3 separate regions of the Homo sapiens genome follow, and all the other regions are linked to region 1. Evidence: fine-mapped QTL for protein levels in blood plasma. A gene starts in region 1. Each other region holds a variant in brackets. All regions are shown on one strand. Distances are from middle to middle.

Region 1 (8,007 bases):
AAAGAGTGGGAAGGAAAAAGACCCTAATTCTTCAGCACCACCCATTGGCTTGGTCCAAGAAGACAGAGCTGTCAGACAGAGAAATCTGTGTGATGTAGACTGTGTCACAGAGAAGAGCAGCAGGAAGATGAGGGCTGGATCTGAAAGCTACCTGGGCAAGGATCCAAACCAACAACTCCACTCCAACCCCATGAGACTCAAAGGAGGAGAGTTTAAGCTTTTGCTGTTTTTTAAATAAATTACTAGGATCCATAATAATACCAGTAAAAGGTGAGATCTGAAGGATGAGAGACACTATGAAGAAACAGTGTGAGACAGTAATAATGCACTGATGATCATGGCAGTACAAAAAATGGGAAGTCCTTCATGAGTCAGGTTTCTTTAAACCCACATGCAACTCCCACTTAGATGGACACAACAGTATGTGAAGACTCATACTGTGTTCTTTTGTTCCAAGAACCACCACGGGAACACACCAGGAAAACCAAAGGAATTCACACACCCTTTGAAAGAAGCAGGACACTGCTGCAAATTTTGCAAAACAGGTGAAAAACTGTAAGTTCCCAAAGTGTGAGAGGGAAAAAACCTGCCTCTGAACACACATCCCCACTGGGGAATCTGAAAATCCAGATCAAGGGAGAATTTAACCTTACCTTGAACTGAAACAAATGTAGGCAGTCACACAAAATATAAAAGTAGAAGTATCAGTATCAGAAGACTGCAAGGCACTTCCAATCTTCAGCTTGAGCCCAGGGAAGCCATTCCTGACTATATCTCACAGGATCTCTCAGGGAAGGCAGCCAGTGGAATTGGGGAGGGGTCACCAGGTGAAGGAAGCTTCCAACTGAAATTGGTAGTGGTTTCAATTGGACACAAACTTTCTTTAGTGGAGTCTAGGGGACGAGTGGGAGCTTTGGCAATATGAGCACATGAACTCAGAAGCAAAGAAGCCACTCCCGTTGGAGTGGGCAGATGGGGAGGGGTGATATCTGAAATCCATGCTTGCTTTCTCAGTGGGAAAGTTCACAGCCTTGGGCAAGATCTGAGTGGGGCACTTTGGGAGTGAGACTGGCCTTGCCAACTGTGTGGGAGCTGGGTGAGACCTCTCGCTACCAGCTTTCCGCCACTTCCCTGGTGAATTATATGACACAACAGAGGTAGCCAAGATCCCCTCTGGAAAATAACCCCATTGGCCTAAGAACCACCCCCACATCCCGCACAGTGGCCACAGCAAACCCCACCCAAGGAGACTCTGAGCCCAGACCCACCTAACCCTGCCCCAACATGATGGTATTTCTTTACTCACCCTGGTAACCAAACACAAAAGATAGAAACTCTTGGGAGCTTTCAGGCCCCACCCATCATCTGAGAAACCAAAATACTCACCCTGGCCAACTTAGGGCAAACCTAGATCCCTCTACTACCAATGCAGCTGGTGCTCTCTTGAAAGCACCACTTCTTGGCTGGAGGCCAAACAACACAGGCCATTACAGCAACTCATGACAGAATAACCCTGAACCCAGGAAGGAGAAGATAACACCTAATTCCAATGCCTGCAACATCCTGGCTAAACAGAGGTCCTGAGTGTGTCCACATGAAAACTTCACTGCTAGCATAACCAGCATTCAAGAAACCCAGCACACTACACATATCTACAACCAAGGACTCTCACAGAGTCTACTTCACTCCCCTTCCACCTCCACCAGAGCAGGTAATGGTATCCATGGCTGGGAGACCTGAAGAGAGATCACATCACAGGACTCTTTGCAGACATTCCCCAGCACCAGCTGGAACCTGGTAGCGCCACTGGGAGGCTAGACCCAGAAAAGCAGTAACAGCCAATGCAGTCCAGTGGTCAGAAAGTCCCATCCCTAGGGGAAGGGGGAGAGCACCACATCAAAGGATCACCCCATGGGATAATAGAATCTGAACAGCAGGACTTGAGTTCCAGACCTTTCCACTGAAATAGTCTACCCAAATGATAAGGAACTAGAAAGGTAATTCTGGTAATATGATAAAACAGAGTTCTATATCACCTCCAAAAGATCACACTAGCTCCCCAGCAATGGATCCAAACCAAGAAGAAATCTCTGAATTGCCAGATAAACAATCCAGAAGATCATTAAGCTACTCAAGGAGATACCAGAGAAAGGTGAAAAAACAACTTTAAAAATTAAAAAATATATATATACATAAATATAGGATATGGGTGAAAAATTCCCCAGAGAAATAGATATCATAAAGAAAAAATAATCACAACTTCTGGAAATGAAAGCCATGCTTAGAGAAATACAAAATCCACTGGAAAGTTTCAACACTAGACTAGAACAAGCGGAAGAAAAAACTTCAGAGCGCAAAGACAATGCTTTCAAATTAACCCAATCAAACAAAGACTAAGAAAAAATAATTTTTAAAAAATGAACAAAGCCTCCAAGAAATGTGGGATTATGTTAAACAGTCAAACCTAAGAATAATTGGTGTTCCTGAGGAAGAAGAGAAATCTAAAAGCTTGAAAACCTTATTTGAGGAAATAATTGAAGAAAACTCCCCTGTCCTTGCTAGATACCTAGACATCCAAATACAAGAAGCTCAAAGAACACCTGGAAAATTCATCACAAAAAAGTCTATCACCTAAAGTCCTATCCCAGTTCTGTTAAAGTAATAGCAGGAATAGCACCTTATAAATACCTAGAAAAATAGTAGAAGGAAACATGCTTAAGCATTAATAATGATCTCCGGTGGTAGAATTTTTGGTAAGTTTAATTTTATCATTTACATGTTCCTACTTAACTATACATATATATTTATATATATTCATATACATAAATATACAAACATATGTATATATACACATTTTTGTTTATGGACAGCCTATGACTGTGAGCCAAGGGACATCAGAGACATGGCTCTCTGGAAACTGAGAGAATACTTAGTGGACAGTTTTTTGTTTGTTTGTTTGTTTGTTTTTGAGATGGAGTCTCGCTCTGTCACCCAGGCTGGAGTGCAGTGGCGCGATCTCAGCTCACTGCAAGCTCCACCTGGGTTGACGCCATTCTCCTGCCTCCGCCTCCCAAGTAGCTGGAACTACAGGAGCCCGCCACCACGCCCGGCTAATTTTTTGTATTTTTAGTAGAGATGGGGTTTCACCATGTTAACCAGGATGGTCTCGATCTCCTGACCTCGTGATCCACCCGTCTTGGCCTCCCAAAGTGCTAGGATTACAGGCATGAGCCACCGCGCCCGGCCTTAGTGAACAATTATTATCAGGATGATCAGCATCCATTTTTCCATCACCTGGCAACAACAACTAGCATTTCTCAAGGGAAATCCCCTCCTCATTCATAAGCACCATAGATGGAGTGGAACAGTCCCCACCTCAGCTTAAGGAGGGCTAAATAACCAAAGCATAAAGCAATCAGTCCACTACACTTCAGTGGACCCAATGATGACTCATTTTGGTTCAATAAATATCAAGTCCAGAACTTTTGTGCAGAACTGTGGAATAAAAAAAGTTATCTTTGTCACAGAATATTTATATTTAAAGAGGGGATTCTAAATATCCCAAAAATATGAATCTGAGATAGTGGTAAGATAGGAATGGGTTGCCATTTGCAGTATTTGTTGGGTGTGTGCAACTCTGCATACTGCTAAGGCAAGTCCAGCCTCCGTCTCACACCAACAGGCAGATTTCCCCACCACGGCCCTTACCATCTTGTGCTCTAACCCCAGATTTTCAGTCTACTCTTGCTAACCATCAATTCTTCAAGGGCAAGAGCCATGTCTCTCATATCCCTGGATCTGGCTTGCTAAATAATTATTCATGATTTTATCTGAGTAGAAAAAGAGCCAAGAACTGAGAAAAGGAGACATTCTTGGTTCTCAGTCACTGAGGAGCTTCTGCAGTACCAGCCTTTCTGCTAGCTGCAGCCACAGCTTCAACAGCTCCACCTCCTTGTTCTTTATTCTTGCTTTCACCTTGTTACTCAGCAGCAGGGGTGTAAATGTGACAGTGCCATGTCAACTTAAACCAAACCAGATAATTTTAATAAACCACCTTCTATAATGACACCCATCAAAACCAGAAGGGGACAAGTCTAGGAGGTCTCTGAGTTTACTGTACCCATCCCTCCTTCATCTCCCTCCAGCATTTGTTTCTGGAAGGAGTCAACACCAACAGCTCTGACCTGGGCAGCCTTCCTGAGAAAATGCAGCCATTCCTCCTCCTGTTGGCCTTTCTTCTGACCCCTGGGGCTGGGACAGGTAAGTGACTATCCCTATTCCAGAGGCCTGAACCCATCTTATAAGATACCCTGTACCCATGAGCACTGGTCAGGAATTTTCCTCAATCTGAGCCCACCTCCCATTCCACACCCAGACTTATAAATCTGAGGCTAGATAGACACTCAGCAAAGATCGAAAAATGAAGGGTGTTCCCTAAAAGGTTTAATGGGTGTTAGCCTCTCCCTAGACCTCTCCTTTATGACCTGGAGTGTGGATTGTTCTTAGAAAGGCATTTGGTAGGGAATGTGAAGCTAAAAAAGATAAGTAATTATTACTCTACACTCCAACCCAGGAAAGAGGAGCTCAGACACCAAGTTGCAGTCATAGGAGTTGTTACTGGACTCAGCTTAAGAACCACTTATTCAGTGCCCCCACCCAGTCACCCCTGCCAGGAGGGAAGCCCATGGTGCAACTGATCTCAGAGATGGCAAGATGACTGTGTCCATAGCTCTCCCATTACCTTGGCTCCACCTGGGCTTTGCGATTCATTTTTAGTTGATTTCTCCACTTCCTTCTGCCTTTGCAGGCCCTCAGCTACTCCACTGACCTGGTGATAACCCCCTCTAACATCCCTGAGGTCCTGAATCCCACCAGCACTACCCCCACTAAACCTCAGCCAAAGGCTAATTGGAGGCTATTCATTTATGCACCAAACAACACTTACTGAGAACCTAGAATGTGTTCAGCCCTGGCACATGAGAATTTTAGAAAATCCAACTCCAGAAGCTCATGGGTAGATCATTAGAAAATGGCACCAATCAGGAGGACAGCAGAGGCTCAGAGGAATCAGAGAGACTCACTAAAAAGGAGGAGCCTGGGAAGTCCTGTCCAGGATCCTCTGGGGCTCTACCACTGTGAAAATAGATCTTTCTTCCTCCATGTGTGTTTCTGCAGTAGGATGCAGAAGTCAAGCACTGTCCATTCTTTCTGAGAGAAGGTTCTGAGACTTAAAGTTCAGAAAAGCTTGCTCTGCCTGCAAGGAGTACTGCCTGCAGAGCTCAGGAGGACCCCTCCCTCACTGTCTGCAGCACACAAAACACTTCACCCTCAATCACTGTCGTCCTAAGCCTTCTCTCCTGACTGCAGCCATCCCCAGCTACTTTATCTTCCAGTCTTTCCTTTCAGAGGAGATCATCGGGGGCCATGAGGCCAAGCCCCACTCCCGCCCCTACATGGCCTTTGTTCAGTTTCTGCAAGAGAAGAGTCGGAAGAGGTGTGGCGGCATCCTAGTGAGAAAGGACTTTGTGCTGACAGCTGCTCACTGCCAGGGAAGGTAAGGAGCAGCACCAGCTCACCTCCTGAGTTCCCCCTACAGGGACCCTTGTTTTCTCCTGGGGACTGCAGCCCAGGGGAGCTTCCAGAGTTCCTGGTAACACAAGCCCATGAAAGCTCATCGGAGCAGCCACCTGGGAATAGGACTAAGATGATGAAAGGCTGAGAAATAGGACAGGGTCAGAGGGTCAGAGGGTCAGAGGTCAGAGCAAGTGGCATGGTTTCACACACTGGCCCAATAAGGCAGTAGTAAAGGTTGAATCCATGCATTAAGGATCAAAATGCAAACTCGAGCAATTTCATGATATTTCCTGAAGGCAAGAGAGAGCCCCCAGAAGCCCTACTCTTCATGTCTTTGTGAAGTAGAGGGCACAGTCACTCAGCCCTGGAGCCCTCCTGTCCCTTCAACTTCCCCTCAGCTGCAGCCCTACCCTGCCACAGCTGTCATCTGCTCTTCACTGCTCCTGGGCTCTATCCCCTGTGACTCCACCCCCATCCTCACTCTGCTCTCTGTGCAGCTCCATAAATGTCACCTTGGGGGCCCACAATATCAAGGAACAGGAGCGGACCCAGCAGTTTATCCCTGTGAAAAGACCCATCCCCCATCCAGCCTATAATCCTAAGAACTTCTCCAACGACATCATGCTACTGCAGGTGAGGCACACTCCTGCCACTCTTGCTCTTCTTGGTCCAGTTGGTTCCACTCCCACTGGGATGCCGGCCCTTTCCTCCTTTCCATCCTGACCTCTTGGTCAGTTCCTGTGCCTTAGAGGAGAGGGAAGATTGTGCAGCCCCATCACTGTGTCGGGGCCCAGAAGGCCATTGCCTGACCTGGACTTTCTTGCTTCTTCCCCACCAGCTGGAGAGAAAGGCCAAGTGGACCACAGCTGTGCGGCCTCTCAGGCTACCTAGCAGCAAGGCCCAGGTGAAGCCAGGGCAGCTGTGCAGTGTGGCTGGCTGGGGTTATGTCTCAATGAGCACTTTAGCAACCACACTGCAGGAAGTGTTGCTGACAGTGCAGAAGGACTGCCAGTGTGAACGTCTCTTCCATGGCAATTACAGCAGAGCCACTGAGATTTGTGTGGGGGATCCAAAGAAGACACAGACCGGTTTCAAGGTTGGGTTTCCAGCCTCTACCCAGAAAGACCACAGGGAGAGAGGAACTTGAGGGAGTTCTGGGGTATGACAGTGGCCAGATCTTTATGCTCTCAGCCCAGAGCTTGGGCAGCCTGTGTCCCCCTGGAATCTAGTCTTTAGTCCACTCCTTGGGTGGACTGGGGTGGCTGGAGGGGAAGGATCTGTCATCCGACAGTCACTTATCACCAAAGTGTCCGTGAGAATTGCAGAGAAAGGCTTGGTCTGGGGAGAGCCAGAAAGCACAGCCAGGGCCATGCTGGAGACCCAGGACTGAGGGAGGTGAGTGACAAGGCCTGCCTGGCACTGATGTCACACAAAATCCATAACAGAGACCACCCATCCCAGGGAACACTAGCTCAGTCTTTCCTCTCTCTGTTCACAGGGGGACTCCGGGGGGCCCCTCGTGTGTAAGGACGTAGCCCAAGGTATTCTCTCCTATGGAAACAAAAAAGGGACACCTCCAGGAGTCTACATCAAGGTCTCACACTTCCTGCCCTGGATAAAGAGAACAATGAAGCGCCTCTAACAGCAGGCATGAGACTAACCTTCCTCTGGGCCTGACCATCTCTGGGACAGAGGCAAGAATCCCCAAGGGGTGGGCAGTCGGGGTTGCAGGACTGTAATAAATGGATCTCTGGTGTAAATATGACTGAAGTCTTATTTATTCACTGAACCATCTTCAATATGCAACAACACTGCTCCAGGCAGCCGTCTGCTGTCAGTTCTGGCTTTTGCTTCTTCCTTTCTCCCCCAGCCCTCCCTCCTCCCTAAACCCCATGCTGTACAGTTTTTTCACTAATTTCTCAATCACATGTCTTTGATACTGAACCCTCTGTTAGAGCTGGTTTGAACTCCATTATAAACAAACAATCTTCACCCCTCTCCCTTCACAAAAAAAAATAAACCTCTCTGGACGTTAGGAATTTCTTATCGTCTCTAAACCAACTACCTACTCCCCTAACAACGTAGCAGAGAATGGAGCAGGGCAGTGGAAAGGAAATAACTCCAGGGACTCAGAAGGCCAGGGGCCATGCCATGAGTACTCAGTTTCCTATTTTCAGGGCCTGTCCCTCCAATGGGGGCAGGCTTCTCCCACAGCCAGGTCTGCCTGCAGCTTAGGAGGTTGAGATGCTCCTCTGCACCTAGGTCCCTCTTCCCTGCCCTGGGCCCAGCCCTGAGCTCAGTCAACCTTCTTCCTTCCTGGCCGGCCTTCCCAGCTCCCAAGAGTTTTTCACCCAAGTGCCCTGGCTACCAGTTTCTTTCCCTTCTAGATCACCCTGTTCTGAAGCCAGCCTCTCTCTCATGTCCCTAACAGAG
Region 2 (8,007 bases), 10 kb before region 1:
GTTCATCTCATTGGGACTTGTTAGGTGTGGGTGCAGTCCATGAAGGGTGAGCAGAAGCAGGGTGGGGCGTTGCCTCACCCAGAAAGTGCAAGGAGTGGGGGGCCTCCATTTCCCAGCCAAGAGAAGCTGTGAGGGACTGTGCTATCCAGTCCAGATACTACACTTTTCCCATGGTTTTTGCAATCCGCAGACCAGGAGATTCCCTTGTGTGCCTACACAACCAGGACCCTGGGTTTCAAGCACAAAACTGGGCAGCTATTTGGGCAGACACCAAGCTAGCTGCAGGAGTTTTTTGTTTTTGTTTTTGTTTTTGTACCCCAGTGGCACCTGGAACCCCAGTGAGACAGAACCGTTCACTCCCCTGGAAAGGGGGCTGAAGCCAGGGAGCCAAGTGGTCATGTTCAGTGGGTCCCACTCCCACAGAGCCCAGCAAGCTAAGAACCACTGGCTTGAAATTCTCACTGCCAGCACAGCAGTCTGAAATCCACCTAGGAAGATCGAGCTTGGTGGAGTAAGGGGTGTCCACCATTACTGAGGTTTGAGTAGGCGGTTTTCCCCTGACAGTGCTTAGGAGGCCAGGAAGGTTGGACTGGGCAGAACTCACCACAGTTTGGCAAAGTGGCTGTGGCCAGACTGCCTCTCTAGATTCCTCTTCACTGGGCAGGGCATCTCTGAAAGAAAGGCAGCAGCCCCAGTCAGGGGCTTATAGATAAAACTCCAATCTCCTTGGGACAGAGCAACTGGGGGAAGGGGTGGCTGTGGGCACAGCCTCAGCGGACTTAAACATTCCTGCCTGCTGGTTCTGAAGAGAGCAGCAGATCCTGACAAAGAGAGTTCTCCCAGCACAGCACTCGAGCTCTGCTAAGGGACAGACTGCCTTCTCAAGTGAATCCCTGATCCACATGCTTCCTGACGGGGAGAGATCTCCCAACAGGAGTTGACAGATACCTCATACAGGAGAGCTCCAGCTGACATCAGGCCAGTGCCCCTCTGGGATGAAGCTTCCAGAGGAAGGACCAGGAAGCAATCTTTGCTATTCTGCAGCTTCCGCTGGTGATATCCAGGTACATAGAGTCTGGAGTGGACCTCCAGCAAACTGCAGCAGACCTGCAGAGAGAGGCCTGACTGTGAGAAGAAAAGCTAACAAACAGCAATAACATCAACATCAACAAAAAGGACCCCCACACACATATAAAAAAAAAATCCCATCGAAAGTAAATCCATGAAGATGAGGAAAAAGCAGTGCAAAAATGCTAAAAATTTCAAAAACCAGAATGCTTCTTCTCCTTCAAATGATCACAGTTCCTCTCCAGCAAGGGTACAAAGCTGGACGGAGAATGAGTTTCACAAATTGACAGAAGTAGGCTTCAGAAAGTGGGTAATAACAAATTCCTCTGAGCTAAAGGATCATATTCTAACCCAATGCAAGGAAACTAAGAAACTTGAAAAAAGATTAGACTAATTGCTAACTAGAATAACCAGTTTAGAGAAGAACATAAAAGACCTGATGGAGCTGAAAAATACACCATGAGAACGTGACGCTAACACAAGTATCAATAGCAGAATCAATCAAGCAGAAGAAAGGATATGAGAGACTGAAGATCAACCTACTGAAATACTGTGTGAAGACAAGATTAGAGAAAAAAATTAAAAAGGAAAGAACAAAGCCTCCAAGAAATATGGTACTATGTGAAAAGACCAAGCCTATGATTGATTAGGGTCCCTGAAAGTGATGGAGAGAATGGAACCAAGCTGGAAAACACACTTCAGGGTATTAATCAGGAGAACTTCCCCAACCTGGCAAGAAAGGCCAACATTCAAATTCACAAAATACAGAGAACACCACTAAGATACTCCTCAAGAAGGGCAAGCACAAGACACATAATTGTCAGATTTTCCAAGGTTGAAATGAACGAAAAAATGTTAAGGCAGCCAGAGAGAAAGGTCAGGTTACCTACAAAGGGAAGCCCATCAGACTAACAGCGGATCTGTCTGCAGAAACCCCACAAGCCATAAGAGAGTGGGGACCAATATTCAACATTCTTAAAGAAAAGAATTTTCAACCCAGAATTTCATATTCAGCCAAATAAATTTTCATAAGCGAAAGAGAAATAAAATCCTTTACAGACAAGCAAATGCTGAGAGATTTTGTCACCACCAGCCATGTCTTACAAGATCTCCTGAAGGAAGCACTAAATATGGAAAAGAAAAACCAGTACCAGCCACTGCAAAAACACACCAAAATATAAAGACCAATGACATTATGAAGAAACTGCATCAACTAATGTGCAAAATAACCAGTTAGCATAATGATGACAGGATCAAATTCACACATAAAAATACCAACCTTAAATGTAAATGGGCTAAATGCCCCAATTAAAACGCACAGACTGGCAAATTGGATAAAGAGTCAAGACCCATTGGTGTGCTTTATTCAGGAGATTCATCTCACGGTGTAAAGACACACATAGGCTCAAAATAAAGAGATGGAGGAATATTTACCAGGCAAATGGAAAGCAAAAAAAAAAAAAGCAGGGGTTGCAATCTTGGTCTCTGATAAAACAGACTTTAAACCAACAAAGATCAAAAAAGACAAAGAAGGCCATTACATATTGGTAAAGGGATCAATTCAACAAGAAGAGCTAACTATCCTAAATATATATGCACCCAATACAGGAGCATCCAGATTCATAAAGCAAGTCCTTAGAGACCTACAAAGAGACTTAGACTCCCACACAATAATAGTGGGAGACTTTAACACCCCACTGTCAATATTAGACAGATCAACAAGATAGAAAATTAACAAGGATATTTGGGACTTGAACTCAGCTCTGGACCAAGCAGACCTAATGAACATCTACAGAACTCTTCACCCCAAATCAACAGAATATACATTCTTCTCATCACCACATCATACTTATTCTAAAATCAAACACATAATTGGAAGTAAAACACTCCTCAGCAAATGCAAAAGAAAGGAAATCATAAAAAACAGTCTCTCAGACCACAGTGCAATCAAATTAGAACTCAGGATTAAGAAACTCACTCAAAACCATGCAACTCCATGGAAACTGAACAACCCGCTCCTGAATGACTACTGGGAAAATAACGAAATTAAGGCAGAAATAAAGAAGCTTTTTAAAACCAATGAGAACAAAGAAACAACATACCAGAATATCTGGGGCACAGCTAAAGCAGTGTTAAGAGGGAAATTTATAGCACTAAATGCCCATATCAGAAAGCAAGAAAGATCTAAAATCGACACCCTAACATCACAATTAAAAGAACTAGATAACCAAGAGCAAACACATTCAAAAGCTAACAAAAGACAAGAAAGAACTAAGATCAGAGTGAAACTAAAGGAGAGAGAGACACGAAAAACCCTTCAAAAAATCAATGAATCCAGGGGCTGGTTTTTTGAAAAGATCAAAAAAATAGACCACTAGCCAGATTAATAGAGGAGAAAAGAGAGAAGAATCAAATAGACCCAATAAAAAAAGATAAACGGGATATCACCACTGATCCCATATAAATACAAACTGCCATCAGATAATACTATAAATACTTCTTTTTTTTTTTTTTCTTTTTGAGACGGAGTCTCGCTCTGTCGCCCAGGCTGGAGTGCAGTGGCGGGATCTCGGCTCACTGCAAGCTCCGCCTCCC[G/A]GGTTCACGCCATTCTCCTGCCTCAGCCTCCCAAGTAGCTGGGACTACAGGCGCCCGCCACTACGCCCGGCTAATTTTTTGTATTTTTAGTAGAGACGGGGTTTCACCGTTTTAGCCGGGATGGTCTCGATCTCCTGACCTCGTGATCCGCCCGCGTCGGCCTCCCAAAGTGCTGGGATTACAGGCGTGAGCCACCGCGCCCGGCCTACTATAAACACTTCTATGCCAATAAACTAGAAAATCTAGTAGAAATGGTTAAATTCCCGGACACATACATGCTCCCAAGACTAAACCAGGAAGAAGTCGAATCCCTGAATAGGCCAATAACAAATTCTGAAAATGAGGCAGTAATTAATAGCCTACCAAGCGAAAAAGGCCCAGGACCAGATGGATTCACGGCTGATTTCTACCAGAGGTACAAAGAGGAGCTGGTACCATTCCTTCTGAAACTGTTCCAATCAATAGAAAAAGAGGGACTCCTCCCTAACTCATTTTATGAAGCCAGCATTATCCTCATTCCAAAACCTGACAGAGACATAACAAAAAAAAAATTTTTCAGACCAATACCACTGATGAACATAGATGCAAAAATCCTCAATAAAATACTGGCAAACCAAATCCAGCAGCACATCAAAAAGCTTCTCCATCACGATCAAGTTGGCTTCATTCCTGGGATGCAAGGCTGGTTCAATATATGTAAATCAATAAACCTAATCCATCATGTAAACAGAACCAATGACAAAAACCACATGATTATCTCAATAGATGCAGAAAAGGCCTTCGATAAAATTCAACAACCCTTCACGCTAAAATCTCTCAATGAACTAGGTATTGATGATACATATCTCAAAATCATAAGAGCTATTTATAACAAACCTATAGCCAATATCATACTGAATGGGCAAAAGCTGGAAGCATTCCCTTTGAAAACTGGCACAAGACACAGATGCCCTCTCTCACCACTCCTATTCAACACAGTATTGGAAGTTCTAGCCAGGGCAATCAGGCAAGATAAAGAAATAAAGCATATTCAAATATGAAGAAAGGAAGTCAAATTGTCTGTTTGCAGATGACATGATTGTATATTTAGAAAACCCCATCATCTCAGCCCAAAAACTCCTTAAGCTGATCAACTTTAGCAAAGTTTCAGGATACAAAATAAATGTGCAAAAATCACAAGCATTCCTGTACACCAACAGTAGTCAAGCCAAGAGTCAAATCATGAGTGAACTCCTATTCACAATTGCTACAAAGAAAATAAAATACCTAGGAATACAACTTACAAAGGATGTGAAGGACCTCTTCAAGGAGAACTACAAACCATTGCTCAAGGAAATAAGAGAGGACACAAACAAATGGAATAAAATTCCATGCTCATAGATAGGAAAAATCAATATCATGAAAATGGCCATAGTACCCGAAGTAATTTATAGATTCAATGCTATTCCCATCAAGCTACCAACAAGACACCAGGAAAGTCAATGGTAGACTTTCCTCACAGAACTAGAAAAAACTACTTTAAATTTCATATAGAACCAAAACAGAGCCCATATAGCCAAGACAATCCTAAGCAAAAAGAACAAAGCTGGAGGCATCACGCTACCTGACTTCAAACTATACTACAAGGCTACAGTAGCCAAAACAGCATGGTACTGGTAGCAAAACAGATCAAAACAGATACATAGACTAATGGAACAGAACAGAGGCCTCAGAAATAACACCACACATCTACAACCATCTGACAAACCTGACAAAAACAAGAAATGGGAAAGGATCCCCTATTTAATAAATAGTGCTAGGAAAACTGGCTAGTCATATGCAGAAAACTGAAACTGGACCCCCCTTCCTTACACCTTATACAAAAATTAATTCAAGATGGGTTAAAGACTTAAACATAAAACCTAAAAGCATTAAAACCCTAGAAGAAAACCTAGGCAATACCATTCAGGACATAGGCATGGGCAAAGACTTTATGACTAAAACACCAAAAGCAATGGCAATAAAACCCAAATTTGACAAATGGGATCTAATTAAACTAAAGCGCTCCTGCACAGCAAAAGAAACTATCATCAGAGTGAACAGACAACCTACAGAATGGGAGAAAAATTTTGCAATCCATCCATCTGACAAAGGGCTAATATCCAGAATCTACACAGAACTTAAACAAATTTACAAGAAAAAAACAACCCCATCAAAAATGAGCAAAGGATGTGAACAGACACTTCCCAAAAGAAGACATTTATGCAGCTAATGAAAATGTGAAAAAAAAACTCATCATCACTGGTCATTAGAGAAATGCAAATCAAAACCAAATGGGATACCATCTCACACCAGTTAAAATGGTGATCATTAAAAAGTCAGAAAACAACAGATGCTGATGAGGATGAGGAGAAATAGGAATGCTTTTACACTGTTGGTGGGAGTGTAAATTAGGTCAACCATTGTGGAAGACAGTGTGGTGACTCCTCAAGGATCTAGAACAAGAAATACCATTTGACCCAGCAATCCCATTACTGGGTATAGACCCAAAGGATTAGAAATCATTCTACTATAAAGATACATGTACATGTATGTTTATTGCAGCAGTATTTACAATAGCAAAGACTTGGAACCAACCCAAATGCCCATCAATGATAGACTGGATAAAGAAAATGTGGCACATATACACCATGGAATACTATGCAACCATAAAAGAGAATGAGTTCATGTCCTTTGCAGGGACATGGATGAAGCTGGAAACCATCATTCTCAGCAAACTAACACAGGAACAGAAAACCAAACACCACATGTTCTCACTCGTAAGTGGGAGTTAAACAATGAGAACACATGGACACAAGGAGGGGAACATTACACACTGGGGCCTATTGGGGGGTGGGGGGCAAGAGGAGGGAGAGCATTAGGACAAATACCTAATGCATGCAGGGCTTAAAACCTAGATGATGGGTTGATAGGTGTGGCAAACCACCATGGCACATGTATACCTATGCAACAAACCTGCACGTTCAGCACATGTATCCCAGAACTTAAAGTAAAATAAAAAAACTAGAACAATTATAACAATATATTCTAATAAACGTTATGTAAATCTGGTTTCTCTCTTAAAATATCTTACTGTTTTCAGAGCACTGTTGACCATGGGTAACCAAAACTGCAGAAATTGAAACTGCAGATAAAGGAAGACTATTGTACAAGGATATCAGAAATGTGTCCTAGACAGAAATGTGAGGATACTATTTGGCTCCCTGGCATCAGTTTTTAGTTCACATGGAATTAGTAATTCACTAAAGAGATTGTCTTCCTGGAAAACTAACCCTCCTTCCATTCATAGTATATAAAGTTTAGACAAAGCAGATCTCAGTCTATCCAAAAGCTATGCCCAAGGCTTATACCAATCAAAGTAGCTTCAACTCTTCTCTGACGAATCCTTCATGCACCTAACGCAATGTGGCAGATTGTACTTTCTGTAATGACTGCCACTGCACATCTCCCATCCCAGCAGCTCTCCTTACATGACTTCAACACTCCTCTCACTGAGAGGCAAAGTCTATGTCCCTTTCTTTTAAATCTGGGTGGGGGCTTTAGATTGCTCCAAGCAATGGAATGTTGTAGAATGGATACCATATGACTTCAAAGTCTAGGTAACAAAAAGGACACAGCTTCTGCCTGGCTCACTTTTTGGGAGGATGATCACTCTGGGAAACCCAGCCACCAAGTGGTGAGAAACAATACCATGCAGTGAAGCAACATAGGGAGGCCGCCATGAAGAAGACATGAAGCTCCCAGCAACTACTGCTGAACCTGTGAGTGAGTGAACCTTCAAATGATTCCAGCCTCCAGGCTTCAAGTTGCCCCTGCTGACATGGAGGGGAGCAGTGACAAGCTATCAACACCAACCCTGATCCAAATTGCAGGCTCGTGGGCAAGGTAAATATTGTTATTGTTTTAAATGACTAAAATCTTTAGTGCTGAAGCACACCTTCTTCTGCATTTCTCCACATCATTCTTTCCATTCCTCTAAGCATGGCCTTCACCATCCTTATCTAATCACTAGTGTTTTTGTGTCCTCCAACAGAGCCAAGGAATCTCATCTCCAGTATCTGTGAGTCTCACACAGAAAAGGACCCCATAAGAGCTGTAGAAAAATCTTTGACCCTCTTTTTTTCCAGATTCCATGGAATTTAGTGGTGTAGTGGTTAATATCAGATGCTCTGGAATCAAGCTATGATGCTCAAACCCTGGCTACTCCCTCCTCACAGTGTGAGATTGAGCAAGTTACTTAACTTCTCTTGATCACAACTTTTTCATGTAAAAATAGAGATAGTATCAATACCTACCTTGCATAAT
Region 3 (8,007 bases), 62 kb before region 1:
CAGCAATCTAACACAGGAACAGAAAACTAAACACTGCATGTTCCCACTCATAAATGGGAGTTGAACAATGAGAACACATGGACACAGGGAGGAGAACATCATACACCAGGGCCTGCTGGGGGGTGGGGGGCTAGGGGAGGGATAGCATTAGGAGAAATACCTAAAGTCGATGACGAGTTGATGGGTGCGGCAAACCACAATGGCACGTGTATACCTATGTAACAAACCTGCACGTTCTGCACATGTATCCCCAAACTTAAAGTATAATAATAAGAAGAAGAAAGAGAGAGAAAGAGTGAGAAATGTAGAAAATGTTGACATTTTGAATCTTGGTGAGGGGTGTCCAGAAATTATTTGTCTTATTCTTGCAACTTTTCTGTAATCCTGAAATTATGTCAAAATACAATGTTTTTTTAACTGGCTTCATTCTTTTCCTTACCCCACAAATGCATCAATCACCAAGTCCCTGTGGTTCCATTTCCTAAATACCTCAACAAACATAGTCACTTCTATTTTTCTCTACCGCCACTACCCTAATACAAACCACCCCTCTTGCATGAACTACAAAAACAAATAATAAAAAAATAGCAAATATCTAAATGGTATAATCTTAGAAACTTTTACCTTTCTAGCCTTCCTTCTAAATGGGCTTGTATTTGAGGTCCCAACCTATCAATAAGATAAGAAAAGGGAATAAATGTAAGGATTGGGAAATAAAATAAAGTAGTAATGTTTATAGATGATATGCCTGTCTATCTTCTCTACATAGATGACCCAAGAGAATCTACAAACTAGTACAACTAATTATACTCAATGAGCTCAATATACAAAAACCAATTCCTATACAACAACCAATGAAAATATGTATTTTTAAAGGTAACAGTAATAAAAGTACAGGATGTCTAGAAACAAATCCAACAGAGATGTAAGATATGTACAGATTAAAATAATAAAAGCTTATAAGGAACATAAAAGAAGACTTAATAAATTGAAAAGATATAAAATATTGATGGATGGTGTAGCAGAGCTACAAGTTATCTATACGAAACCTTGGCATCACCTTTTTTGTGAACAAAATTCAAAATTTAGGGAGAGAGGAGTATAAAATATATTTTTGCTAAATTTTCTTTCAGATAGGCATAATATTTTACAAAGTTCTGACCAATAAAAGGTAAACAAAAGTCTGAGATCATTTCTATTTTATTGTTATTTTATTTTTTCTTTTGCTTTTTGGGTGAGGCATCAACCCTCTTTCTTCTTCCTTGTTCCTGATACAAATCTGACTTGATGCCTGGAGTAGCTGCAACCATCTTGTGGCAAGGAAGCAATAAGCATAAGGGGGAATATCAACATATACATACAGAAGTCCAAGACACTGATGAGAAACATTACACAGTCACTTCAGCAGCCCTGGACTGCTCATCTCCAGACTGGTTGTCATATAAGAAACAGAAACCGTTACTGTTTGCACTGCTATGTCAGGTTTCTCTCACTTGAATCAAAAATATTGCTGAATGTTACAGATGGGAACACACAAAGTTTTAAAAATGGTAATTCTCCCCAGATTAATTAATAAATTCAAGTAGACAAGTGTAATCTGGATATGGCTGAAAAACCTTGTTGCTCTTTGCAGAGTTGTGTGAAATAGCAAACAGGAAGCTGCTACATCCGGTTCTGGGCACTCTTAGGCTTTTGCTGGGACCAACCCAGACACCTAGAGATTTTGTGCTTTACTTACAGCATGTACCTGCTTCTTCCATGGGGCCACTCCATAAGCTCCTTTTGCACAAGGACAGCCCATCCTCAGCAATGACCTCAGCCCCCGACCACCCCTCTTTCCATTCCCCCACCCACAGTCATATTTTATTTTGACATGGAGCAGGATGTCGAGGGAGTTTTCTTAGAACTGATTCTATTTCAGGGGCAAACATTCACTCTCAGTGAGCTTAGGGTGGGGAGCAGGAGAAATGGGGGCGGAGAGGAAAATTAGTTTTCCTCACCCACCTCAAAATGAGAAAAGAGGCTGAGTTTGCTAAGAAATAACCTAGGGGTTCTGGTCGCCCCTGAGGGGCTTCTGATAAATGATTCAGAGGATACCCTTTCCCTCACCCACTCCTGTAATCACACACCCCACATGGACATGAGCAATCCTTTCCAGCACACACCGCCCTCTACAACTTCTTAGGTGGGCACTTCCCTTGTAGCTCTGGTCCATGAGTGACCTGAATTTTTCTGCCTTTTGTCTCCATTCCTAATGTAGAATTTTGGGATTCCAGGTACACTACTCACATCCTCACCTTTTCCCTCCTTCCACATAATTCCTGAAAGTCCCTCAAAGGAGATGCATCGCAAGTTCTCACACGCAAGTCCTTGGCCAGTCCCCGGAACTAGGTTTTCCTTTCTTCGACATTGACTCATCCTTCTTCCTGCTGAGACTGATACAGCCCGCAAAGCTACATCAAAGCACTTCAGCACTATCTGTGGTGACACCACTGAGCCATCATCTTCTCTAATGTTCTTTGAAAGGGCACCGGCCATCAAGACCCAAAAAGATGCTGCGTTTTCTTTGAAGTTCTTTAAAGCATCCAAACCTCAATGTGTCACATCCCTAAATGGTGGCTACACCTCTTTTGACATTTCAACACCAAAGCAACTCTATTTGTGCCTTGGTGTCTCTCAGAAATTTTTAGTGCAAAGAATGCTTTCATTTTGCATGGCCTCTCTTTCATGAGCTGTGCTGGGACAGAAAGCTGTGCTGTCTCATTCTGCTCTCTCTCCTCCCATTATTCCTTCTTTTTGACCCAAGGCTGATGCCCCCACTTTGAAATTTTCAACAAAAGGGAGTATTTTAGTCCCTCTCTTAGTTTCTAGAGAAATAAGCGACTGCTGGCTGGGCCCCAGGTGTATAAGCTCTTTTGGCTTCCAGGTTCAAGCACACGGAATTTGAATCTCACTTCCTCACACACTGAGCTGCTTCCCCTTTCCACTTCTCCTGTGAAACCCTAAGTCCTCTCAATCACATTTCAGGGCCTGATGTGGCTTTTTGAGAGGCTTTCTCCAGCATCTGCATCTCAATCCCCATTCAATGATGAGAAGAGCACTCACCAAGCCCCATCACTGTAACATACCACACAGTTTGGGTATAAGCAACAAATGCTCAGTCATGGATGACAGCAAAGTTGTAGGAATAAGGATTTTTTCAGCAGATGAATAAAATAATGAAAAATACCAATAATCTAAATGACC[C/T]CAAATAAGTAACTGGTTGAATAAATAGTGCTGTATCCACACAATGAAAAATTCAGCAATAGTTGAAATTAGTAGTGTGGAAGTAATCTCAAAGAGCCCAAGATGGCCCATATTAGAATCGCTCAGAAGCCTGTAAAAAATACAGATTTCTGGATGTGGATCCCAATGACGGAGTCAGAAGCACTGGGAGTAGACTTGGAATCTTTATTTTAATAGGTAACTCCAGTGATAATGCAAATCAAAGTTTAAAAATTTACAACCATGGCAGCATAGTTAATTATGAGGTAAAATGATCATGATATATTGTTAGATGAAAATAGTATGTTATGAAAAAAGAATGTATAATATAATCTCATTTTTAAAAAGTAGTGTGACTAGAGAGATGATATATAGGTATATAGGTAAAGACTGAAAAAATAATGCCAAAATACTAACCATGGTTAGTGGTGTGTTTATAGAAGATTTTTATTTTACTCTTTTTACTTTTTTACGTGTTGAGTCCAATTTGTAAATTTCCAAAATAAACATTTAGTTTATGTGTGTTTAAAGAAAACAATAAAAGTTGTTTTGTTTTGCTTTTTAAAAAAGGATAAGAGGTAAATGACATGGGACTTTTAAATTTACTTATACTCTAGATTTTAAAAAATAAAAAAGGCAGCTTGCAAAAATTTTGTACCACATAATAAATAAAAATTTTAAATGAAGAGTTAAAAATAAAGGGGAAGTAAGGGTGCTAATATAAATGAAGCCAGGATTAAGGTTGGTATCCAAGAATGCATTGCCTCAAACTTCAGTTATGTTTCTAAAATGAGCTATAAATTTGCCTCTTCCTAATGTCACAAGACTAGACATGAGCAGATAGGGAGAGGGAGGTTCAATATCATTAGACATTAGGGAAACAGGAATCAGAACCACAATGAGATACCATTTCATACCTACTAGGATAGCTAAAATAAAAATTAATGTTTTAAAGGAAAGCAAGTGTTGGCAAGAATGTGGAGAAATTAGAATCCTTGTACGTTGCTGCAGGAATATAAAAGGTAGAATGTAAATGTAAAATGATGAAGAGTTTGACAGTTGCTCAACATTAGCAGCACTATACACAATAGCTAAAAAGTGGGTAATATCTATCAACTGATGAATAGATAATAAAATGTGATATATCTATACAGTAGAATATTATTCAGCCTTAAAAAGGAATGAAGTACTGATTCATGCTACAACATGGGTGAACCTTGAAGACATTACATTGAGTTAAAGAAGACAAACACAAAGGGTTGCATATTACATGACTCCATTTATATTAAATATCTAGAACAGATAAATCCATAGATATACATTGTGTTTTTCGGGGGCTGGGGGAAATGGAGGAATGGAGTGTGATTGTTTCATGGGTATGGAAGTTTCCTTTTGGGGTGATGAAAATGTCTTGAGATAATGATTTCAAAACAGTATGAATGTACTAAATGCTACTGAACTGTGCACTTTAAAATGGTTAATTTTATGTCATGTAGATTTTACTTCAATTTTCTAAAAGTAGGAGTAGTTTATGAAAGTTAAACCCAAGAATACTGAGGTGTTCCAGAAGGTTCCATTTGGAAAGGGAGAGGAAATAATTAGCCCAGTTTTGTACCTTGAGTTTGATATGTCCATGGAGAATCCAACTGAAGGTGCCAGAAGTCAATTAGGATTATCAATCTGGAGCTAGGGAGAGAATTCTGGACTGGACCTCTATATTTGAGAATCATCAGGTGGATAATGGAAACTCAATCTACACATGTGGGTGTGGGTTCTCCTCAGAGTTTCCTAACACAAATGAAGTGGAGTATAGGCCCCAGTGGAGAAACCCTGTCATTTTTCCAGGAAAAATTTCCGTGTCGATGTGGACTTTACATTCATTCATTGTTTTTAATTAAAGTGGAGTATGGCATGTAAATTTTTCACCTTCCAGAAAAGCCTTTGCTGTAATATGGTTGGATTCATTTGATATGACAGAATAGTATTTAAAAGACCTGACCTATGATTTGCACATTACTGGAACAATCAACCACAGTCACCTCTTCTTCAACTTTCATTTCTGTGTGCCTGAAGTGTGAAGAAGGGTCCTCCCTCACCTTTCCTGGCATTCGATCCCAGGTGTTTGTGGTGAGCCTATTGGAGAGCCCACCCATGACTGATGTGTCACAAGAAGGGATGTGATGCCATGGCTGAGGTAATACCAGGTCATACTTTTTTCCAAATCTTTTCTAATGTTTGACTCAGAACAGATTTCAGTGTGCAATACTTAAAGTAGCATTTTTTTTAAAATATAGTAAGCCTTGACAACTGTTTAATCTGGATGATGAGTGCATGGGTATTATGGCACTATTTTCTCCATGTTTTAAATGTTGAAATATTTATAATTTTTAATAGAATCTTTAACATTATGATGACTTATATTCCACACAAGTTTATTAAGCATCAATTTTGTTCCAGGTACTAAGTTAGGTGGTTTCATACATGACTAGTGCCTGCAGAATAAACCAGTTTGATGATGGTTTCCTATTCTAAATAACAGGCTACACTTAGGTTACCATAAAGAATGTTCCGGAGTATGAAGATGGTTAACATCCATTGGGTCAATAAGAAGTGAAGATAAAATTTGACATGGATAAGAAGATTTGAAATAATCTCAGAAGATAAATCGAAAATTAAAGACAGCCCTCTTTAAAAAAATAAAATAATTAAGGGGGACATAAGAGTTGTTCCACTATTTCTAAATGGCTGGCATGTGCAGGGGAAATTATAGGGTTAAAATCTGCGAACTAGGTCAGCTTTATGTATTTGGCTCACAATGAAGATGTAAAGTTCACCAGCATTTACCTGGGTAAAACCACACCATTAAATTGGTTTATGGTTGGTACCTACCATGTGCCAAGCTCTGGGCATGGTATTTCACATACCTTATCTCATTTAATCATTTTAGCAGTCCTGTGTGCTGACATTTTTTAATGTATGTGGAAACAGCTCAAGAGTTCAAATAACTTGGTCTTAAGTCACAAAGTTAGTAAACGGTCAAGCTAATATTCAAACTTGAGTAAATCTGTTGCCAAACCTATGTCTTGCCAAAAGAACATGCTTCATGGGAATAGATTGCTCTGGAATTCATGTCTTTTAACTTTCTTTATGGTTTCTTTTAGTGTGCAGATCTTTTTCACTTAAATGTTAATATATTAACATTTTCTTTTGTGGTCTGTGCTTTTTGTGTTTAGTTAAGGAAACTTCTCTACCCTGAAGTCATAGGATACTCTATCTACACCCTAAAGTCATAGGATATTCTATCTTTTCTTTTAAACTTATAAACATTTGTTTCTTACATTCAGGTCTATAACTGTCTTTAACTTCTATTTGGTAATGGTGTAAATTAAAGGTGTAACTTAATTTTTCCCCCACATGAATAATGAATCATCCAGCACCACTGATCAGGCTCCATTTTTTTCCCTATTAGTTCCTCATGCTTTGTAGTATATTGAGTTCATAGATGAGGAGGTCAATTTCTGAACTTTCTACTTTCTTCTACTAGTTTTTTTTTTAATTTCTGTATAAATGCTGCATTGTCCTAATAACTGTAGTCTTGTAACAAATATTCGTATTTAGTAAGGTAAGCTCCCATATTTTTCTACTCTAATTTTTTTCTGGGTTATTCTAGGCCTTTTGGTTTTCTAGTCAAATTTTAAAAACAACATAATTTCCTTGAAAACCCCTATTGGGCTTTTGATGAGAATGGTATCACATGTCAATTAATTTTGGGAGAATCGACATCTTTAAAAATGTTGAGTCTTCTCATCCAGAGATTAAGTATGTTTCCCTGTTTACTTTTCTTTTTTAAAAATAACTTTCTCCATAAAAGCCTCAGGTACCTATTACTTATTTTTAGATACCTTAGAGACTTTGTTTCTACTGTAAATAAAATTCTTTTTAAAATTATATGTCATAATTTTTGTAAGTGTCTAGAACTTAATTGATGCTGATAATTATCTTGTATCTAGCAACCCTGTTGAACTTTTTATTAGTTTGTAGATTCTGTTAGGTTGTTCAGTTATCTTTTCACAAATAAGCATTGCATTTGTATAAAATATGGCACTCAAACTTATCAACATACATGTGTAAAGTCTAAAATTACAAAATTTGAAATATAACACATCTTTTATTTTCTATAAATTGATGTAATTTTGACTCAAGCATGCCATGCATTTGAGCTGGCAAGGAATTTAACTTTAGTTAGCCATTCTTGAGACTTACTTCAACCTAAGGACAAGTAATAGTTCCAGGGTCTTAACACCAAGGCTGACGGGCTGGCAAGTTCTCTCCCTGGTCACATGCCATCAATCCAGGAGGTTTACTGATAACACGTTTGTTCTCTCTGAGCAGAGTCTCCTACCATTCTGTGACTCTCTGCAGTGTTCACACCCATTAGGATGACAGGAATTTCAATGGAAGCTAATAGCCCTAAGCCCAGTGCTCCATTTTTTCTGCCACTTCCATGAAATCTGGCTCTTATCTGTCTCTGCCTCCAAAGAGCTTGAGAAAGTCTCAGAGGTCTCAGAATGCACAGCCTTCACCCAACCCCCAGGCAAGGGATATCTTTTTCTAGGCTAAGGAAAACCCCTCCCCACCTCCTGAATCTTCAAGTCACATTGCTTTCCCCCTCAAACTTTATCCTTCCTTTTTCCTTTCCCAATAGTCTTTCACAAACTTCCAAACCCAGAATCTAGGATTAAT

Direction of the effects. Positions count from the first base shown, and alleles are read on the strand shown. Strength reflects both the effect of a copy and how common the allele is.
For the plasma level of the protein whose gene starts at base 4,134 in region 1, G is the high allele of the variant in region 2 and A is the other (moderate association).
In carriers of allele C in region 3, the plasma level of the protein whose gene starts at base 4,134 in region 1 tends to be higher than with T alone (weak association).

The links. A credible set is the group of variants that fine-mapping cannot tell apart. PIP is the chance, under the fine-mapping model, that this variant and not a neighbour inherited with it causes the effect. Protein levels are from antibody-based Olink assays in UK Biobank. Linkage for the fine-mapping came from a reference panel and not from the study's own genotypes, which makes the PIPs less certain.
Region 2: its variant is the best candidate, but not a certain one, in a credible set for the plasma level of the GZMH protein (UK Biobank, PIP 0.89).
Region 3: its variant is the best candidate, but not a certain one, in a credible set for the plasma level of the GZMH protein (UK Biobank, PIP 0.74).

Annotation. Positions count from the first base shown.
Region 1 is chr14:24,605,812-24,613,818 of GRCh38, reverse strand. GZMH (granzyme H) reads left to right here and starts at 4,134. Exons shown (of 5, transcript NM_033423.5): 1 at 4,134-4,260; 2 at 5,407-5,554; 3 at 6,072-6,207; 4 at 6,413-6,670; 5 at 7,073-7,339. The coding sequence starts at 4,206. The coding sequence ends at 7,216. RefSeq lists an enhancer at 7,553-8,007.
Region 2 is chr14:24,616,068-24,624,074 of GRCh38, reverse strand. No RefSeq gene overlaps it. Among named protein-coding and RNA genes, the nearest start is that of GZMH, 10 kb to the right of the region's middle. The variant G/A (reference allele first, on the strand shown) is at 3,664.
Region 3 is chr14:24,668,187-24,676,193 of GRCh38, reverse strand. No RefSeq gene overlaps it. Among named protein-coding and RNA genes, the nearest start is that of GZMB, 38 kb to the right of the region's middle. RefSeq lists enhancers at 1,354-1,403, 2,724-2,773, 1,665-2,864, 3,104-3,153. The variant C/T (reference allele first, on the strand shown) is at 3,247.